2 separate regions of the Homo sapiens genome follow, and region 2 is linked to region 1. The links come from fine-mapping of genetic effects on gene expression. A gene starts in region 1. The other region holds a variant in brackets. All regions are shown on one strand. Distances are from middle to middle. Region 1 holds the start of RIPOR2 (RHO family interacting cell polarization regulator 2). Region 2 overlaps RIPOR2 (RHO family interacting cell polarization regulator 2).

Region 1 (10,139 bases):
CTATTAAAAATCATGTTCCAGCCAGGCGCAGTGGCTCACGCCTGTAATCCCAGCCCTTTGGGAGGCCAAGGCGGGCAGATCACTTTAGGTCAGGAGTTCAAAATCAGCCTGACCAACATGGTGAAACCTCGTCTCTACTAAAAATACACAAACAATTAGCTGGGCATGGTGGCGCACACCTGTAGTCCCAGCTAGTCTACTGGGGAAGCTGAGGCAGGAGAATCACTTGAACCCGGGAGGTGGAGGTTGCAGTGAGCCAAGGTCGAGCCACTGCACGCCAGCCTGAGCGACAGAGACAGACTCTGTTTCAAAAAAAAAAAATCGTATTCCTTTTGTCCCAGCTCTTTAGACATGGCATTTTACAGTTAGACAAATTAGACAAATTTTTAGGTGCATCTTTACTGGCAAAGTTACCCAAAGATAAGATTATTTCTGACTCTGTGGTTTTTTTCACCTTTTTCTTTTCTGATTCCTACCACTCCTCACAGTTTCAATTCCTCTCTCCTACTTTGTTCTCCTTTCTGTTTCGAACATTTTGCTCCTAATTAGTTCAGGTTTTTCTCCCTGTTCAGAAGTTTGTATATCTGAAAATTAAGTATTTTAAAACACTTTCTGAAAGGAGTGGGAAATTCTCCAGAAGCACAGAGAGAAGATTGTGAGGCTCTTCTGTTGGAATAAAAGCCCACGTTGGATGTTGAAATTTTTCCACTAGTATGGTTTCCTCCTGTACACGCTTCACAGGTGGTATTTTTTTTCAAAACAGCAAACTATGCAGAAATATTTTAAATTAATAAATTATTAATTATTATAGCCTCAATTCTCATAACTCAAAATAATAATACTGTGTTGATATTCATATGTTCAACACAACACATGCCTTCTCACTTATATATTTACTTAAATATTTCACACCATACCTGAAATATAGTAGGTATTCATTACTATTCTCCAAATGAATGAAGTGAGTAAAGTTCCACAAAGCAAGGACCAGACCTTTCATATCATTGTAATTCACAGACCTAGTATGGCATAAAGTGGGCACCAACTCTTTGGAGTATAAAAGCTTTGCTATGTTCCTGTGCTTATGACCTTGATGAAATTCTGCTGTTAAATTTAGTACAGGTTGTCACAAATCACCATTTGATCAAAGTAGTTGCCTTATACTGGTTCATCTATACTTTTGTTCTCTTCCCCAAATCCAATTATTGGAGCTGTTTGCCTCAATCACTGAAAAGCAAGATTCTTTCATTGTTGTTTCAGACTTACTCCTCATTTCTTAGTGAAAACTACTCTCTGTGACCTACATCTCCCTTAACTAAGCACTGAATTTCCCTATCTTTAGTCTTTCTTTTCTAATATGGATTCGAAGGGGATCAGAATGTGTCCCCCAAAATATGCTAATTTAGCATAAGTACTATTTTGAGCTATTTTTGAGAAAGAATCTTCTGCCCTTCTCCTTTCTGCTTTAAGTGCCATAAATTTCCACTTGTAAAGGTGTTTTATTTCCCATCTTGGGTGACTAAGCCTCATGGTCCTCTTCCTGATATGAGAGATGAGTCTGCATAACAATCCTTAGCTATCATACATTCCTAGTTACCTTCCCACAATTTGCCACTCTTAGGAGCCCACTCCCCTACTCTGCCTCCTTTGTCTAGTCACTTCTTCACAGTTTATTGCACTTTGTTAAAATTTTATATAAGCTCAGCATTCTTTTAGACTTTACATAGATAAGAGATAGTGTAGCCTGGTGTTTAAGAGTTTGGACTCTGGGATCAAATCTCAGTACCTCTACCACTTACCAAATGTATGACCTTGGGTGGATCACTTCACCTCTTGGGCCTTAAACTAAAATAGAGATAATAAATATATCTATATCTTAGGGTTGATATAGGAATTAAGTGAATCAAAGCACTTAAAACTGTTGCTGGCACTCTGTGTTAGCGATTACCTACATTTTTTTATTTGCTCATTTTGGACACTCATATAAATATAATTATACCATTTATAATTTTCTGAGACCTTTCAAAGTCAATATTATGTTTTTGAAACTCATCCATATTGATGCATGCATATGTAGTTTATTAATTTTTCTTTTTAGTTAACACATCATGCATGTATGTCATATCTCTCTAAGGTAATTGTAAACTTTGGAGAGCAAGAACCATGTTTTCTATCCTCTGTGCTTTCAAGGAGTTCGTGGTAGCATTTGTGATTTGTTCTTTGAGATGATTAGCTGTGTTTCTGAGATATCTAAATTGGAGAAGAGGAGACTGAGGGAAACTTCCTAAGGGTTATTGAGGTTTTATATGGAGTGTGGTGACTTCTCATTCTCTATCCCCATTGAGCCTTCAATTTGGGAAATATCCTAAGCGTCCCTGTGAGAGACTTAGGCGTATAATTATAACTGGGTATTTACTGTGTACCATGTACTGTGTCAGCTTCTTTACATAAATTATCCTACTTAATCCTCAAAACAAGCCAAATGAGAAAGTATATTATTTTCTAGGACTTCTGTAATGAAGTACCACAAACTGGGTGGCTTAAGCAACAGAAACTTACTGCATCACAGCTGTGGAGGCTAGAAGTCCAAGGTCAAGGTGTTGGCAGGATTGGTTCTTCTGAGGGATGTGAGGGAGAATCTCTTGCAGGCCTCTCCCCTAGCTCATGGTGGTTTACTGGCAGTCTTTGGTGTTCCTTGGCTTGTGGATCTCTGCCTTCATCTTCACATACTATCCTCCCTATGTCTATGTCTTTGTCTAAATCTCTCCTTTTTATGAGGAAGTTAGTCATATTGGATTAAGGACCCATCCTCCTCCAATATGATATAAGTTCATCCTAACTAATTATATCTTCAATGGCCCTGTTTCTAAGTAAGGTCACATTCTGAGGTACTGGGGGTTAGGACTTCAACATATGAATTCAACAGGGGAGACACAATTCCACCCACTTAAAATGAAACAGGCCTACAGAGGTTATGCTAACTTTTTGAAGTGGAATAGCTAGGGCCCTCAGGTTCACGTGGTAACCAGGTAGTTCTGAGGTGGGAGGTGAGGGAGGTAGTGCAGGTCCCCAAGAGCCACGGGGATGCTGCAGTGAACTGGACTGTGTGCAGTCACTCCCATAAGTTGTCCAGACATGAGGTAACAGAGTGAGCTCTGGAATTAGTCAAATCTGCCACTCACTAGCTGCCTGATCTTAGGAATGTTTTTCAAGCCCTCAGAGCCCCCATTGCTTCATCTGTAAAATGGGATAATAGCACCCACCTCATGAAGTTGTGGAGATTAAAGGACATAGGACAGTAGTTGAGAAATGTAGTGATTATCAAAATGGACACCCATCCTCTTATCCCAACCACACAAAAGAGAGCTTTAGTCCACATCCAAATTTCCTACACCTAGGCCCATTTTAATTAATTTAATTTATGTAACTAAGTGCAACCCTTGTCCAGAAACATCATTCAAGTGGGGATCATGGTAGGGGGTGGTAAAAGGGTCAGAAAGGGGAGATGCAAAGGAGAGCTAGAGAAAAGGATAACTCCAGTTCTCTGCCTGTCAGTGTGTCTCAAGGTGGGCATTATTGGTATTTGGAGCTGGACAGTTCTTCCTGTTGAGCTACTGTTCCATGCATTATGGTAAGGTTGATATCCCTGGGCCCCTGAGTGCTAAGACATTAAATACCAGTAATAACCCCCAGTCATTGTGCCACCCAAAACACCCCAGACATTTCCAAGCTCTCCTCTAAGGATGGTTCCAGCCCTGATTGACAACAATTGGTGATCCCAGCAGGACCCAAGCTGTACACTGTCTTTGGGAACTGCTGCAGCCACCAATGCAGGGATGAACTGACTGTTGCTGCTCAGTTAACCCTCAGTGTCTGATTCCTGAATTCCTCTGGGGTGATCCCTTCTCACTGCTGGATTTCTCCAACCCTGTTGTCCACAGTCTCTTCTGGGAGAAAATGGTGCAATTTCAAGGTTGCAGTTACAGGAGGAGGGGACAGTTTCTCTAGGGTAACACTGGGAGTATCTTCAAAACCATGCAGTAAATAAAGTGCCAAAAATAAACACCTTGGGTCAACAGCTCCTCACTGTCATCTCCATTTGCATTTTCTAAGCTTCTGGCCACCTAAGAGATCTTACAACACAGTGGAGTGCTCTGGGAAACCCCGAAATGAAGTCTCAGTATTACTCAGAGAGATGTGTGTTTGTTTGTGCAGCCAGACAGAATTTGGCACACGTTGGGTAGCTCGATATGGTGATGCCAGCCAATGGTGCTCGCGTAGAAGCTCAGTGTTCACTCATCCCTTTGGGAGGACTGCTTTTTGAGTTACATTTTCTTCTTTCTCCTTTAGTGATACAGTCTGAAGTATCAAACTGAGTAAATATTGTGAAATGCAAGATGTTTGACCAAAACCAGTTATCTATTCATTGACTATAGATTTAATCGAGCCACATAAAGCCTAGATATGGTTCAGTTTGGTTTAAATGCTGTAAAGTTTCCAATCCTTAAATGCAAGAGGTTTGAAAAAAAGAAAAGAAAAGAAAAGAAAAATGCAACTATTACTGAGCAAAATAAAAGCTCTGTCCTCTAAATGCCTGCTTTGGTTTAACATAGTGGCTTGCTTTACTTTCAGATAAATTGTAATTGAAGCAAAACCAAGATATGAGAAATATGAACTCCCTCTTTCAACAAAACCCATTGTGTTCAAATTCATAAGCAAGAAAGTTAAGCACCCACCTTCCTCTTTAAGGAAATATGAAAGTTGTTGCTTTGAAATAGAATTCATTGCATTCAGACTTTGAGTGATATCTGTATTCATATCCAACCGGATCTGCAGCCCTCTTCAAAAAATTCTTTCTCCTCAGTGGTGAGAATTACCCCACCTGGGATTCACTCTTCACAAGGCTCAAGAAGCCTATTCATATGAATGAAACTGCTTTCTTCAGGGCAGATGCGGAAGCTGCCCTCCAGAGGGCTTGGGCAACCCAAGGAAAGGAAATCACCTCGGTCGGCAGTGTGACTGCTGAGACTGCCGGGGCTGCTGCCTGCTGCTTCTCGCGCCTGTCCTCTCCAAGATGCAGTTTTTTGATGCTGAGGAGCTCCTGGTCGATGAAGAGGATGATGTTTTTGGTGAAGGTAAATGCATCTTTCTGGCAGGAGGCTCTCCGGTCTGCTTTGCTTTGTTTTGACACCACTGGACACTTTTGCCCAGCTTGGGCAAGGACTTGAGTATTTTGAAATGATAAAAACAAAGCATCCTGAGTGAGGTAGTGGCTGCAAATATCAACTTAGGCACTGAAGGAATACACAAGGCAAGGGGTGGAACAAGGGGTTGAGTCATTCCCGCAAATACATTTTTTAAAGTCATGACTAAAATAAAGGTTTAGTTTAGGCTGGAAAATAGTACTAAATTTTTTGCCTTGTCTCTCTTCTGTGCTATCTCTTGTCTAACACCTTAAGGAAAGCCTGTCACAGTGGTTTGAGCACAGCAGGGCTGCTAGGGAAGAAGTTAAATAAATGGACCAGGAGTGGTTTTTCATGGTACCATGTTGCTTTGATTTGCACTTCTCTCTTTCTGTCTCTCTCTCTCTCTGTCTCTCTCTCTCTGTCTATCTTTCTCTCGGTCCTTCTCTTTTTTTTTTTTTTTTTTTTTGTTGTTGTTTTTTGAGACAGAGTCTTGCTTTGTTGCTCAGGCTGGAGTGCAGTGGTGCAATCTCAGCTCACTGCAACCTCCGTCTCCCGGGTTCAAGTCATTCTCCTGCCTCAGCCTCCCAAGTAGCTGGGACTACAGGCGCCCACCACCATGCCCAGCTAATTTTTGTATTTTTAGTAGAGATGGGATTTTGCCATGTTGGCCAGGCTGGTCTTGAAATCCTGACTTCAGGTGATCCACCCTCCTTGGCCCCCCAAAGTGCTGGGATTACAGGCGTGAGCTACCATGCCCGGCCTGGGTCCTTCTCTCTTACTCTTCCTCACACATACTTGGCACTCCAACCCTCCATTCCCTTTTCCAATTTTCTTTTTTCCCAAGTCGGGATACTGGAGCCCTGGTAGCTTCCAATCCCCATTGGCACTGCTCAGTTTTCTGTTCTCATCTTGCAGCTTTTCCATGACTTGACCTATCCACTGGAATTTAACTGTAAAGGTTGCGATTTTAAAGGGATGATCTAGTCATTGGATGGATGTTTTGTTCAAATGCTGCCTATGAGATTGGGCTATAGGCAAAAGCTTTTTTAGAATTTGGAGCCACCTAAATAAAGGAAATTTGGACTCAAGAATCTCGTGAATTTGATTATTTTCCGCAAGAAACTACGTCTAGCAATTTTTTAAAAAACTCTATTCAGTAATTTTTTAAAAGGAACAGTAGTAAGGTTTTTGTGTATGTGTAATTACCCAAGCAATACAAGTTCGCTGAAGAAAAATTAGAGTGTCGCAAAGAACCCCTTGTAATCTAGTCATGTAGAATGTAATCATGGTTAATATTTTGATGTTGTCTTTCTGCTATGTTGTTCTAGCTACAGAAATATTTAAAATCATTAGTTGGGTTTTTATCACAACTTAAATCAATTTGAAGAATATCTATTGAGCTTCGCTGCTGTTTACCAAGTTATCATTCTGTTGTGTTACTTTGATGGCAGGCGTTTAGGCCACCAACACCTTGAAGTTTGATCTTAGGCCCCATTCTTCAGCTTTCACTTCTTAAAGATGTTTCCTCTTTAAGCAAACACCTTAAAGAGAAAATTTATACTTAGATACTAACTCTTTTGAGGACCTGAAAAATGCTCACAACTATGAAGATAAGCTTAGAACGGAAAAATTGGCAATCATTCACCCACACCTCCCTCCAGGAATGGCATTCCAAAACGCCCAGCCCACATTTCTTTGCCTATAGGAATTTTGCTCTTTTACATCTGGCTATGATACTTAAGAGCGCCCTCTATAGGCTGATGCACTGCACTCTGGATTATGCGTGGCCCCATCCTGAAGGGAAGCGTTAAGACCAAGCAGGGCTGGATGAACCTGTGTGTTCTCTCTCCTGAGCATTCATCATTTCCAAGGTGATTATTGTAACCTCACTAACCATGTTGTAGTGGAATGGCTGAGGTCCCCAGGTTCCAGGTAGCTAGGTAACCAGCTAGCTCTGAGGTGGGAAGTGAGGGAGGTAGTGCAGGTTGATAAGTTGGGAGTCAAACGAGATTCAGACTCAGATTCTGGTTCTGCTTCGTGGTACCCATACAAGCTAACTTTGGTCTCCTCAATGGTGAAGTGGGACAGTAATACCTATCGGTTGTACAGATTATCTTCATAGTAGATGCATAATGTTTGCGTTGCACTTCAATGTGGTATGCTTTATCTTTTCCAAACTGATTATCTCATTTAACTTAATCCCTAAAGATTAAAGAGAAAATCCTTGCAAGGCCAACATCCAGTGTATTTTTATTCAGTTTTCAGAGCCGTGGCTCATGTTTGGCAATTTATGTGAAAGCATGTCCAGCTGCTGCCTCATTTTAAGCAAGCTCTGTGTGGGGTAACAGTCAAAAGCTTCAGCTCTGGAATTGCACGGTCTAGGCTTTGCCAACCAATTCACTTATGACCTTAAGCAGGTTACCTAATCTCTCTGTGCCTCAGTTTACTCACTTATAAAATGGAGTCCAAACCTCATATGGCTGTGTGTGGCTTAAGTGTTATGATAGGGAAAGCTTTTAGAATAGTGGTCAGTACTTAATACATATGAATCCCTATTGTCTATTTACAAAAATGGGTTTATAGAATAGTGACCATTTTTTCACGTCTGGTTAACCTCAGATTCAAAATAGGACTTATTTACAGAACTTCAGTTTATAAATAACTTTTCAGAGGTTTAACGTGGCAGATATAGCACTGAACAAGTTGTTAGGAGTCTGAGTTGTAGCCTTGCCCCTGCTGTGGTATAGCTGGAGGATCTTGGGCAAGTCATTTATCTTCTTTGAGCCTCATTCTTCTTCTGAAACAAGGGGACTGATTACACATTCTCTGAGCATTCTACTACCCAGTCTCCAGTCTTTACTTCAAAATGATGTATCTACCTGTAAAAGTTCATGCTTGTTCTAGGATTCACGCATACTTTCAGCTCACTTAACATGCCTAAGCAGAAAGCTTTTGGCACAATGAGTTTTCCGTAACATAAAAAAAGGAAAATGCCCAGAAGCTTGTTATTAGGGCAACTATATTTCCTTGCAATTGACACATTTTTAAGATCCCTTTCTCCTAGAGGTTACACAGATTTAGAATTTAGGTGCATTTGCTTAAAAGTATATATAAATCCATTTAGATATATGGACACTATAAAGATCTGGGAAGAAAAAAAATGAGTCAATGAGTCATCCTCACAATGTATTTTTTAAACTGCCTTTCTGAGATCCTGTTTGCTTCAGCAATTGTTTTTTGTGGTTAAAGGAAATGTTAAGGTTCACAGAACTTCGGAGCATTGGTGTGTAACTGCTCTTGTTCTAAAACAGGTTGCATATAGTGAGAGAGAAAGAGAAAGAGAGACAGAAAGAAAAGGGATTCACCTACACACTGCAAATCCCAATGTCTGTTCTCTCTCTGTCTCTCCATCTGTTTCTTCTCTCTCTTTTTCTCTCTCTCATACACACACACACACACACACACACACACAGTCTTAAGTTTGCTTTCCTAACAACATCATCACGTCATTTAGAAAATGGTTACTCTCAAGTAGGCTTAATCTTTCCTGGAGAAATGATTCATTTGATTATCAAGGTAGTGAAAAACCAGTAGTTAGCCTTACAGACTCTTTTCCCATTGTTCTTTCAAACTTATCAAATTAAAGGGCTTTCATCTGTTTTGTCACTGTGTGATCTTGACAGCCAGTCTGGTCAGTGTTAGTGGAAATAACTGGATGGGTAATAATGGTAATGACTACAACAATGCTGCTGCTGCTGATGATGATGATGACAATGATGATGACAATTGAAAAAAGGAAAAAAGAAGGGCCATGCACAGTGTAGGTTCCTATCCTGCTTTCAAGAACAGAACAGAATTCACGTGTGGGAGCAAACGGCTCACCAGGTGGTGGTCAGTGAGTATTTTAGCAGCCAAAATTACTCCTTGGCACAAGTTAAAGCTGCAATTGCTTCTTTCCTTAGAAACGCAACCCGCCCCGCCTCCATTTTCAGCACTGCTCAGTAATCTTTTGTCAGGTGCAATGATTAGAATAATAAAACACCCCAAGTTCACAGTAAGTGTGCAAAGTATTTCTCAGGTTCTTGTATTTCCTGGACACTTACATGCCTTTTAAGATTATGCTTGAAGATCACAAGAAACTACAAAGCATTTGTCAGATTTTCAAATGTCCCCCAGAGCTGGTAGAGTGCAACTGAGCATGAGAATACTTCTGTCCTGGATAACTGTGTCTGAGAAAGTTGTTTCAACCTCCACAAAGGAGGGGAACTCTCCCAGATGGAGATGAACTGGCAAAAGGAAGTCCATTCAACCATTAGCTGCCTGTTGCTCTTAAGGAGACTAACAGCTGGTTGGAAAAAAATTGGCAGTCACTTTTGAACCAAGCCTCTCTCCTTTCTCCAAGCCAAGTAAGTTAGCACTTTTTCCTTTTCAAAGGGAACTTCAGGTCAGAGGGAGCAAGAAGACTACAAAACACTTAACACACACACACACACAAAAAGAATTGTAATTAGGATAAATACCTATTTTTTTTGTCTTTCCATGTAGGCTGTTTACAAAACCAAGGTAGTATTTTTCTTTTAATAGGTAAATAATTATGCAATCTGGTATAATCTGGAATATTTTGATATTGTTTCCTGAATTGTATTTGCTCCTTCCAAAATTAATAGAAAGAAGAAAGGGGAAAAAAGCAATTAAATTCATATTATGTACAAAACTAGTAAATGTTGAAAGTTCAGACTGGTTAAGTCATACCCTCCATGGAAAAAGTAAGAGAAATCAAATGTAAAAGTATATGAGCCTTGGCTAGAGAGGATTGGAGATTTTTGTGTGATTATGCCACATTTTATAACATAAATAAATACAAGCATTGCTATTTAACTATGCTGAATCTTTCTCAAGAAATATCTGGGTTTCTCAAGTGGACCCAATAACGGGATTGGAAAAGGGGCAGAA
Region 2 (10,139 bases), 120 kb after region 1:
ATATGGGACTATGTGAAAAGACCAAATCTACGTCTGATTGGTGTACCTGAAAGTGATGTGGAGAATGGAACCAAGTTGGAAAACACTCTGCAGGATATTATCCAGGAGAACTTCCCCAATCTAGCAAGGCAGGCCAACGTTCAGATTCAGGAAATACAGAGAACGCCACAAAGATACTCCTCGAGAAGAGCAACTCCAAGACACATAATTGTCAGATTCACCAAAGTTGAAATGAAGGAAAAAATGTTAAGGGCAGCCAGAGAGAAAGGTCGGGTTACCCTCAAAGGAAAGCCCATCAGACTAACAGCGGATCTCTCGGCAGAAACCCTACAAGCCAGAAGAGAGTGGGGGCCAATATTCAACATTCTTAAAGAAAAGAATTTTCAACCCAGAATTTCATATCCAGCCAAACTAAGCTTCATAAGTGAAGGAGAAATAAAATACTTTATAGACAAGCAAATGCTGAGAGATTTTGTCACCACCAGGCCTGCCCTAAAAGAGCTCCTGAAGGAAGCGCTAAACATGGAAAGGAACAACCGGTACCAGCCGCTGCAAAATCATGCCAAAATGTAAAGACCATCGAGACTAGGAAGAAACTGCATCAACTAATGAGCAAAATCACCAGCTAACATCATAATGACAGGATCAAATTCACACATAACAATATTAACTTTAAATATAAACGGACTAAATTCTGCAATTAAAAGACACAGACTGGCAAGTTGGATAAAGAGTCAAGACCCATCAGTGTCCTGTATTCAGGAAACCCATCTCACGTGCAGAGACACACATAGGCTCAAAATAAAAGGATGGAGGAAGATCTACCAAGCCAATGGAAAACAAAAAAAGGCAGGGGTTGCAATCCTAGTCTCTGATAAAACAGACTTTAAACCAACAAAGATCAAAAGAGACAAAGAAGGCCATTACATAATGGTAAAGGGATCAATTCAACAAGAGGAGCTAACTATCCTAAATATTTATGCACCCAATACAGGAGCACCCAGATTCATAAAGCAAGTCCTCAGTGACCTACAAAGAGACTTAGACTCCCACACATTAATAATGGGAGACTTTAACACCCCACTGTCAACATTAGACAGATCAACGAGACAGAAAGTCAACAAGGATACCCAGGAATTGAACTCAGCTCTGCACCAAGCAGACCTAATAGACATCTACAGAACTCTCCACCCCAAATCAACAGAATATACATTTTTTTCAGCACCACACCACACCTATTCCAAAATTGACCACATAGTTGGAAGTAAAGCTCTCCTCAGCAAATGTAAAAGAACAGAAATTATAACAAACTATCTCTCAGACCACAGTGCAATCAAACTAGAACTCAGGATTAAGAATCTCACTCAAAGCCGCTCAACTACATGGAAACTGAACAACCTGCTCCTGAATGACTACTGGGTACATAACGAAATGAAGGCAGAAATAAAGATGTTCTTTGAAACCAACGAGAACAAAGACACCACATACCAGAATCTCTGGGACGCATTCAAAGCAGTGTGTAGAGGGAAATTTATAGCACTAAATGCCTACAAGAGAAAGCAGGAAAGATCCAAAATTGACACCCTAACATCACAATTAAAAGAACTAGAAAAGCAAGAGCAAACACATTCAAAAGCTAGCAGAAGGCAAGAAATAACTAAAATCAGAGCAGAACTGAAGGAAATAGAGACACAAAAAACCCTTCAAAAAATCAATGAATCCAGGAGCTGGTTTTTTGAAAGGATCAACAAAATTGATAGACCGCTAGCAAGACTAATAAAGAAAAAAAGAGAGAAGAATCAAATAGACACAATAAAAAATGATAAAGGGGATATCACCACCGATCCCACAGAAATACAAACTACCATCAGAGAATACTACAAACACCTCTACGCAAATAAACTAGAAAATCTAGAAGAAATGGATACATTCCTCGACACATACACTCTCCCAAGACTAAACCAGGAAGAAGTTGAATCTCTGAATAGACCAATAACAGGCTCTGAAATTGTGGCAATAATCAATAGTTTACCAACCAAAAAGAGTCCAGGACCAGATGGATTCACAGCCGAATTCTACCAGAGGTACAAGGAGGAACTGGTACCATTCCTTCTGAAACTATTCCAATCAATAGAAAAAGAGGGAATCCTCCCTAACTCATTTTATGAGGCCAGCATCATTCTGATACCAAAGCCGGGCAGAGACACAACCAAAAAAGAGAATTTTAGACCAATATCCTTGATGAACATTGATGCAAAAATCCTCAATAAAATACTGGCAAACCGAATTCAGCAGCACATCAAAAAGCTTGTCCACCATGATCAAGTGGGCTTCATCCCTGGGATGCAAGGCTGGTTCAATATACGCAAATCAATAAATGTAATCCAGCATATAAACAGAGCCAAAGACAAAAACCACATGATTATCTCAATAGATGCAGAAAAAGCCTTTGACAAAATTCAACAACCCTTCATGCTAAAAACTCTCAATAAATTAGGTATTGATGGGACGTATTTCAAAATAATAAGAGCTATCTATGACAAACCCACAGCCAATATCATACTGAATGGGCAAAAACTGGAAGCATTCCCTTTGAAAACTGGCACAAGACAGGGATGCCCTCTCTCACCACTCCTATTCAACATAGTGTTGGAAGTTCTGGCCAGGGCAATCAGGCAGGAGAAGGAAATAAAGGGTATTCAATTAGGAAAAGAGGAAGTCAAATTGTCCCTGTTTGCAGACGACATGATTGTTTATCTAGAAAACCCCATCGTCTCAGCCCAAAATCTCCTTAAGCTGATAAGCAACTTCAGCAAAGTCTCAGGATACAAAATCAATGTACAAAAATCACAAGCATTCTTATACACCAACAACAGACAAACAGAGAGCCAAATCATGGGTGAACTCCCATTCACAATTGCTTCAAAGAGAATAAAATACCTAGGAATCCAACTTACAAGGGATGTGAAGGACCTCTTCAAGGAGAACTACAAACCACTGCTCAAGGAAATAAAAGAGGATACAAACAAATGGAAGAACATTCCATGCTCATGGGTAGGAAGAATCAATATCGTGAAAATGGCCATACTGCCCAAGGTAATTTACAGATTCAATGCCATCCCCATCAAGCTACCAATGACTTTCTTCACAGAATTGGAAAAAACTACTTTAAAGTTCATATGGAACCAAAAAAGAGCCCGCATTGCCAAGTCAATCCTAAGCCAAAAGAACAAAGCTGGAGGCATCACACTACCTGACTTCAAACTATACTACAAGGCTACAGTAACCAAAACAGCATGGTACTGGTACCAAAACAGAGATATAGATCAATGGAACAGAACAGAGCCCTCAGAAATAATGCCGCATATCTACAACTATCTGATCTTCGACAAACCTGAGAAAAACAAGCAATGGGGAAAGGATTCCCTATTTAATAAATGGTGCTGGGAAAACTGGCTAGCCATATGTAGAAAGCTCAAACTGGATGCCTTCCTTACACCTTATACAAAAATCAATTCAAGATGGATTAAAGATTTAAACGTTAAACCTAAAACCATAAAAACCCTAGAAGAAAACCTAGGCATTACCATTCAGGACATAGGCGTGGGCAAGGACTTCATGTCCAAAACACCAAAAGCAATGGCAACAAAAGACAAAATTGACAAATGGGATCTAATTAAACTAAAGAGCTTCTGCACAGCAAAAGAAACTACCATCAGAGTGAACAGGCAACCTACAACATGGGAGAAAATTTTCGCAACCTACTCATCTGACAAAGGGCTAATATCCAGAATCTACAATGAACTCAAACAAATTTACAAGAAAAAAACAAACAACCCCATCAAAAAGTGGGCGAAGGACATGAACAGACACTTCTCAAAAGAAGACATTTATGCAGCCAAAAAACACATGAAGAAATGCTCATCATCACTGGCCATCAGAGAAATGCAAATCAAAACCACTATGAGATATCATCTCACACCAGTTAGAATGGCAATCATTAAAAAGTCAGGAAACAGGTGCTGGAGAGGATGCGGAGAAATAGGAACACTTTTACACTGTTGGTGGGACTGTAAACTAGTTCATCCATTGTGGAAGTCAGTGTGGCGATTCCTCAGGGATCTAGAACTAGAAATACCATTTGACCCAGCCATCCCATTACTGGGTATATACCCAAATGAGTATAAATCATGCTGCTATAAAGACACATGCACACGTATGTTTATTGCGGCACTATTCACAATAGCAAAGACTTGGAACCAACCCAAATGTCCAACAATGATAGACTGGATTAAGAAAATGTGGCACATATACACCATGGAATACTATGCAGCCATAAAAAATGATGAGTTCATATCCTTTGTAGGGACATGGATGAAAATGGAAACCATCATTCTCAGTAAACTATCGCAAGAACAAAAAACCAAACACCGCATATTCTCACTCATAGGTGGGAATTGAACAATGAGATCACATGGACACAGGAAGGGGAATATCACACTCTGGGGACTGTGGTGGGGTCGGGGGAGGGGGGAGGGATAGCATTGGGAGATATACCTAATGCTAGATGACACATTAGTGGATGCAGCGCACCAGCATGGCACATGTATACATATGTAACTAACCTGCACAATGTGCACATGTACCCTAAAACTTAGAGTATAATTAAAAAAAAAAAAAAGAAAAAAAAAAAAAAAAAAGTACTAAACGAATGGGAACTCCTGACATGGATGTTTCCCTTTCAATGGCAAGATGTAATGTTTGACCTACTTTCATCACAAAAAAATAAGACAAATCAGTCTTGAGAAAAGAATGAGAGAAGGCCAGGTGCAGTGGCTCATGCCTGTAATCCCAGCACTTTGGAAGGCTGAGGCAGGCGTATCACTTGAGGTCAGGAGATCGAGACCAGCCTGGTCAACATGATGAAACCCCGTCTCTACTAAAAATACAAAAAAAATTAGCCAGGCATGGTGGCACACACCTGTAATCCCAGCTACTGGGGAGGCTGAGGCAGGAGAATCGCTTGAATCCAGGAGACAGAGGTTTCAGTGAGCCAAGATTGCACCACTGCACTCCAACCTGGGCGACAGAGACTCCATCTCAAAAAAAAAAAAAAAAAAAAAAAAAAAGAATGAGAGAAGGCCACACCTTAGAACTTGCCAAAATCTTGGAAAAGAGCTGCAGGCCTGATAAAGAAAGGAATTAATACCTCAAAAGAAAAAGTTAATGGCCTGTGATCAAAAACAGCTCTAGGGCCAGGCATGGTGGCTCATGCCTGTAATCCCAGCACTTTGGGAGGCTGAGGCCGGTGGATCACCTGAGGTC[AG/G]GAGTTTGAGACCAGCCTGGCCAACATGGTGAAACCTCATCCTTACTGAAAACACAAAAATTAGCCAGGCGTGGTGGCGCACACCTGTAATCCCAGCTACTCAGGAGGCTGAGGCAGGAGAATCGCTTGAACCCAGGAGACAGAAGTTGCAGTGAGCCAAGATCACGCCACTGTACTCCAGTCTGGGTGACTGAATGAGACTCTGTCTCAAAGAAAAAAAAAGAAACAGCTGTAGGAAATTTTGCCTTGTTACTTGGTTAAAAAAAAAATTACCTTCAGGTGCCCAAATAGAAAGCCCACAGTGATTGCTATTTGGGTGCTTTCCTGATATCCAGTGATATATCAGTGACAGATGTCTGTGATACAGACAAAGTAAATAAAGACATAAGGATACAGTGATCTGCATGGGTTTTCATACTCTGAATCCACTAGACTGTAAATTCTTGAGGACCAGAACCATGTCTGGTTTACTGTGGAATCTCTCATGCCTTATGAATAGTCTGGTTCATGGAGTGCTCAATAAATATTTGTGGAACAAACAAATAGAAGAATTGTCATTAATGGCCTTTACCTCCTCCTCTATTTTAGCATATAAACTAAATAGTAAGAATTTTTTAATTAGAGCCATTTTGGAATCAGTGAGATTCAGTGGAAAGAACCAGGGAAAATGGATTCTACTCTGGAAAAGCAAGCTCGTCACTTCACTCCTCTAGACCAGGAGTGTGCTGTGGAATGAGGAATTTAGCTGATCATCAGAATTCCTGAAAGTAAGAACTCTGGGCCCCATCCCAGGAAATTCTGATATAGTGCATCCGGAGTGGCACCCAGGAATATTGGGTTTCAGACACTCAGCTAGGTTTGACCCCATAGGTAAAGTGGTTTTTAGCATTCCTACCAGCTGGCCGGGCACAGTGGCTTACACCTGTAATCCCACCACATTAGGAGGCCAAGGCAGAAGAATTCGACTAGCCTGGGCAACATAGTGAGACCTCATCTGTACCAAAGGTTAAAAATTAAAAATCAGTCCTGGCTACTCAGGAGGCTGAGGCAGGAGAATTGCTTGAGCCCAGGAGGTCAAGGCTGCAGTGAGCTATGATTGCTCCATTGCACTCCAGCCTGGGCAACAAAGTGAGGCTAAAGTTCCCACCAGTTGTGAAATGCCAAGTCTCGTGGTACTCTAGACCTAAATGTCAAAACACGATTTAACCTATTTTTCCCCCATAGGCTACTGAAAGCATTAAAATGCTGGTGACATTGTGTCAATCTGATACTGAAGAAATCAGAAATGTGGCCTCAGAAACCCTCTTGTCTCTGGGTGAGTTTTATTGTTGTTGTTTACATGATTGTTTGCTTCTGGCACTCTCTAACGGATGTTCCCATTTAGATGTTCCCTTCTCCAGTAAGGAGAAGTTTCATGTACCCTGTTTAGCAGTTTCCCCGCTGTAGGCTGTCTTCTCACACACAGAGTACGAAGAACTGATCAGTGTCTATCTCACCCCAACTCCTTGTTCTGTCTGGATGCTGAGAGTGAACTATATTGTCTGGAGACTTTCTATATGGATTGATCAGTCTGTGTACTATTTAGAATCAAGAACACAGAAGTCAAACCATAAAGCAAAGGCAATAGGAATCCAGGCTGTGTTGCCAGGTGGGGTTGACATTCCCTGGAGGACAGAAATTGGGTGAGGTACCAGAGATGCATCCCAGGGAATGCTGTAAATCCCCAGGTATCTCAGCCTCACCCTGACTCCCAGGTTAACCTCTGACTGCCCTGTGGCCTCTGCCCATCTGAGCCCTGATACCTAAGAAAAGAATTGGAGTACTTATTTTATTCTGAAATATCCAGATAATCCTTCCTCTTCACTTTATTTTATGAAGGTTCATGCCTAGCAGGCATTATACATTTATTCTTTTTTGGGGACTTGGGAGGGTGGGGAAAGCCTTTCTTAACTCTGTATTAAAAAGTATAAATAGCTGGGTTTGGTGGCTCACCCCTGTAACCCCAGCACTTTGGGAGGCCAAGGTGAGTGGATCACTTGAGGTCAAGAGTTCGAGACCAGCCTGGCCAACATGATGAAACCATGTATCTACTAAAAATACAAAAATTAGCCAGGTGTGGTGGGGTGCACCTGTAGTCCCAGCTACTTGGGAGGCTGAGGTAGGAGAATCACTTGAACCCAGGAAACGGAGGTTGCAGTGAGCTGAGATCATGCCACTGTATTCCAGCCTGGGTGACAGAGCAAGACTCTGTCTCAAAAAAAAAAAAAAAGAAAAAAGTATAAATAATTATTATAAATAATTTTACTTCAACAACACAATCTTAAAGTATAAAAACTATGCTCCTAGAAATCCTCAGACATAATCCAATCAATACTGCAGCTTAGAAAAAAGCTACCCTTGTTTAGTGATACTAACTTAACAACATGAAGAAGAATCTCATGGCATTTATAATCACTGTGAAAATCCCATTTATTGTTAGGCCCTCTTTCTTACAATTATGGGTTTAACAAGGCTTCATTCTGCTATTGAATATATGATTTCTTCCACAGAAATCTTAGCCAGTATATATTTGTTTAAAGAATAAAAGTTATTCCTTATGGTTGTATTAGGCATAGAAATTATTTAATTCTCTAAAAATGTACCAAGGTATTATTAGTTTAAACTCCTTTATCCCTTCATATTCTAAAATAACCATGAAGGTAAGCCAGGCGCTTATAAAGCATAGCCAACGAAGCTTCTATTTCCAGTGTAACCTAAGGAAGCTGATCCTACAGAATGTGCCCCGGGCCTCACTGGAGCTGTGCAAACAGCAGCATCTCCAGAAGCCATCACCATACCTGCTTCACCTTAGCTCTTCATGCACACTGCTCATATCAGCCCTGGGCCCTCTCACACCACCAGTGTGCAGTGCTCAACACTGGCTGCACATTTGCCAGGGAAGCTTAAACAATCTACTCCCAAAGATTCTGCTTTCATTGGTCTAAGTGTTCCTTGGCATCAGGATTTTTTAAGGATTTTTTGAAGCCTCCCAGGTGATTCTAATATAAAGTTTGAGACCCCCCTGAAGTCAATATTATGAATCTTCTTTGACCCTAATACACAAATACTGGCACATTTTTCTCTTACACAAATGACTGAATTAATATAGTGAGGATAGTATTTTCAATAGGAATTGATAAAATGCCCTATGACAAAGGGCAGAAGGTCATTGCGGGCACTTAAAGGACTCAGGGCTGCAACTATTTACCAACTAGTATGGAATGATTTCGACATTTTAACCTAGAGCTGTCCAACAGATCCCTCCATGGTGATGGGATTGTTCTATATGCGCACTGTCCAGTATGACAGCAGCCATCCTAAATGGCTGTTGGGCTGTTCACCTTTGCCACCATGGAGGAACTGAAGTTTTAAGTTTACTCAATTTTGAGGATAGCTGCTCCTTGACTTACAATGGGGTTACATCCCAATAAACCCGTTGTAAGTTGAAAATACTGTTAAGTCAAAAATGCACTTAATACATCTTACTTGCAGAACATCATAGCTTAGCCTAGCCTACCTTAAACATGGAGTCTCTCTCTATCACCCAGGCTGGAGTGCAATGATGCAATCTCGTCTCATTGCAACCTCTGCCCCCGAGTTCAAGCAATTCTCCTGCCTCAGCCTCCCAAGTAGCTGGGACTACAGGTGGATTCCACCACACCCAGCTAACTCTTTTTTTGTATTTTTTGGTAGAGATGGGGTTTCACTGTGTTGATCAGGCTGGTCTCAAACTCGTGACCTCAAGTGATCCACTCACCTTGGCTTCCCAAAGTTCTGGGGTTACAGGTGTGAGCCACCACACCCAGCTGAACTTCTGATTAGGCACAACTATTTCCATCTTTGTCTCACTTGCATTACATGTATGAAAGCCTGCTTCTTATCACTTGTCTTTGCATTTTATTTTCTCATTTTCTAAATCATTTTTTAAAGTAGAAAAATAGAACAAAACATTAAAATTATTTGCAATTGCATCCTAACTGTTCAAGGTGGCGTTACGGACAAAACTGAACTAGCTGGTGGCTGGTAGAAGGCATCTCTGTATGTTTACATAGTAAAAAGTAATTTTTAGCTGAAGTTTGAAAGCCTAAGATTGATTTTACCACATATCATTTAGATGTATCGATATATAATGTATACAAGTAAAAGTTATGTAAAAGTTCAGTGCATTAGCCATATTGAAATCCCTAATGTACTTAAAATATAATCCATACAATTGCTCTAAAATAAATCGATTATATGAAATCATCAACATCAAATGGCCATAAGACTTCTACTCTGTTTCATACCCTGGCATTCTTTTGGTCTCTGGCATTAATTAGCTCAAAAGTTCTTGGTTGTTCTAAGCATTACCTGGAAAACAATGACATAATTAGGAATAACAAAAGATAACTTTTCCTTACCAAAAGTTAGCATAGCATATTATAGCAACCCATCCCTAAACAAATGGCACTATGTTACTTTGAGTAATTAATAAAAACGTTGTTTGAATTGGTATTCATGTTTAATGTTCTGTATTTAGGAGAAGATGGGCGGCTGGCATATGAACAATTGGACAAATTTCCTCGAGACTGTGTTAAAGTCGGAGGTCGTCATGGAACTGAAGTTGCCACAGCCTTTTAATTACAGGTTAACTGCCTAACAGCTGTCTTAATATCTGGCCCTTTTCATCAGGATGGTGCTGTGGTTTGGGCTGGAAATTGTTTAGAGCCTGAGAGACACGACAACTGAAATAAAAATGTAGGCCAGGTGCAGTGGCTCATGCCTGTAATCCCAG

The links.
Region 2: its variant is fine-mapped to the expression of RIPOR2 in whole blood (TOPMed, PIP above 0.99).

The regions. Positions count from the first base shown.
Region 1 is chr6:24,930,834-24,940,972 of GRCh38, reverse strand. It overlaps RIPOR2 (RHO family interacting cell polarization regulator 2), which reads left to right and starts at 5,013. Exons shown (of 22, transcript NM_001286445.3): 1 at 5,013-5,135. The coding sequence starts at 5,075. It overlaps LOC105374981 (a long non-coding RNA gene), which reads right to left and starts at 6,998. Exons shown (of 3, transcript XR_007059514.1): 1 at 6,909-6,998; 2 at 6,603-6,727. RefSeq lists an enhancer at 4,131-4,300.
Region 2 is chr6:24,806,219-24,816,357 of GRCh38, reverse strand. RIPOR2 (RHO family interacting cell polarization regulator 2) reads left to right here. Exons shown (of 22, transcript NM_001286445.3): 21 at 6,551-6,641; 22 at 9,885-10,139. The coding sequence ends at 9,985. Among named protein-coding and RNA genes, the nearest start is that of ARMH2, 12 kb to the right of the region's middle. The variant AG/G (reference allele first, on the strand shown) is at 5,326.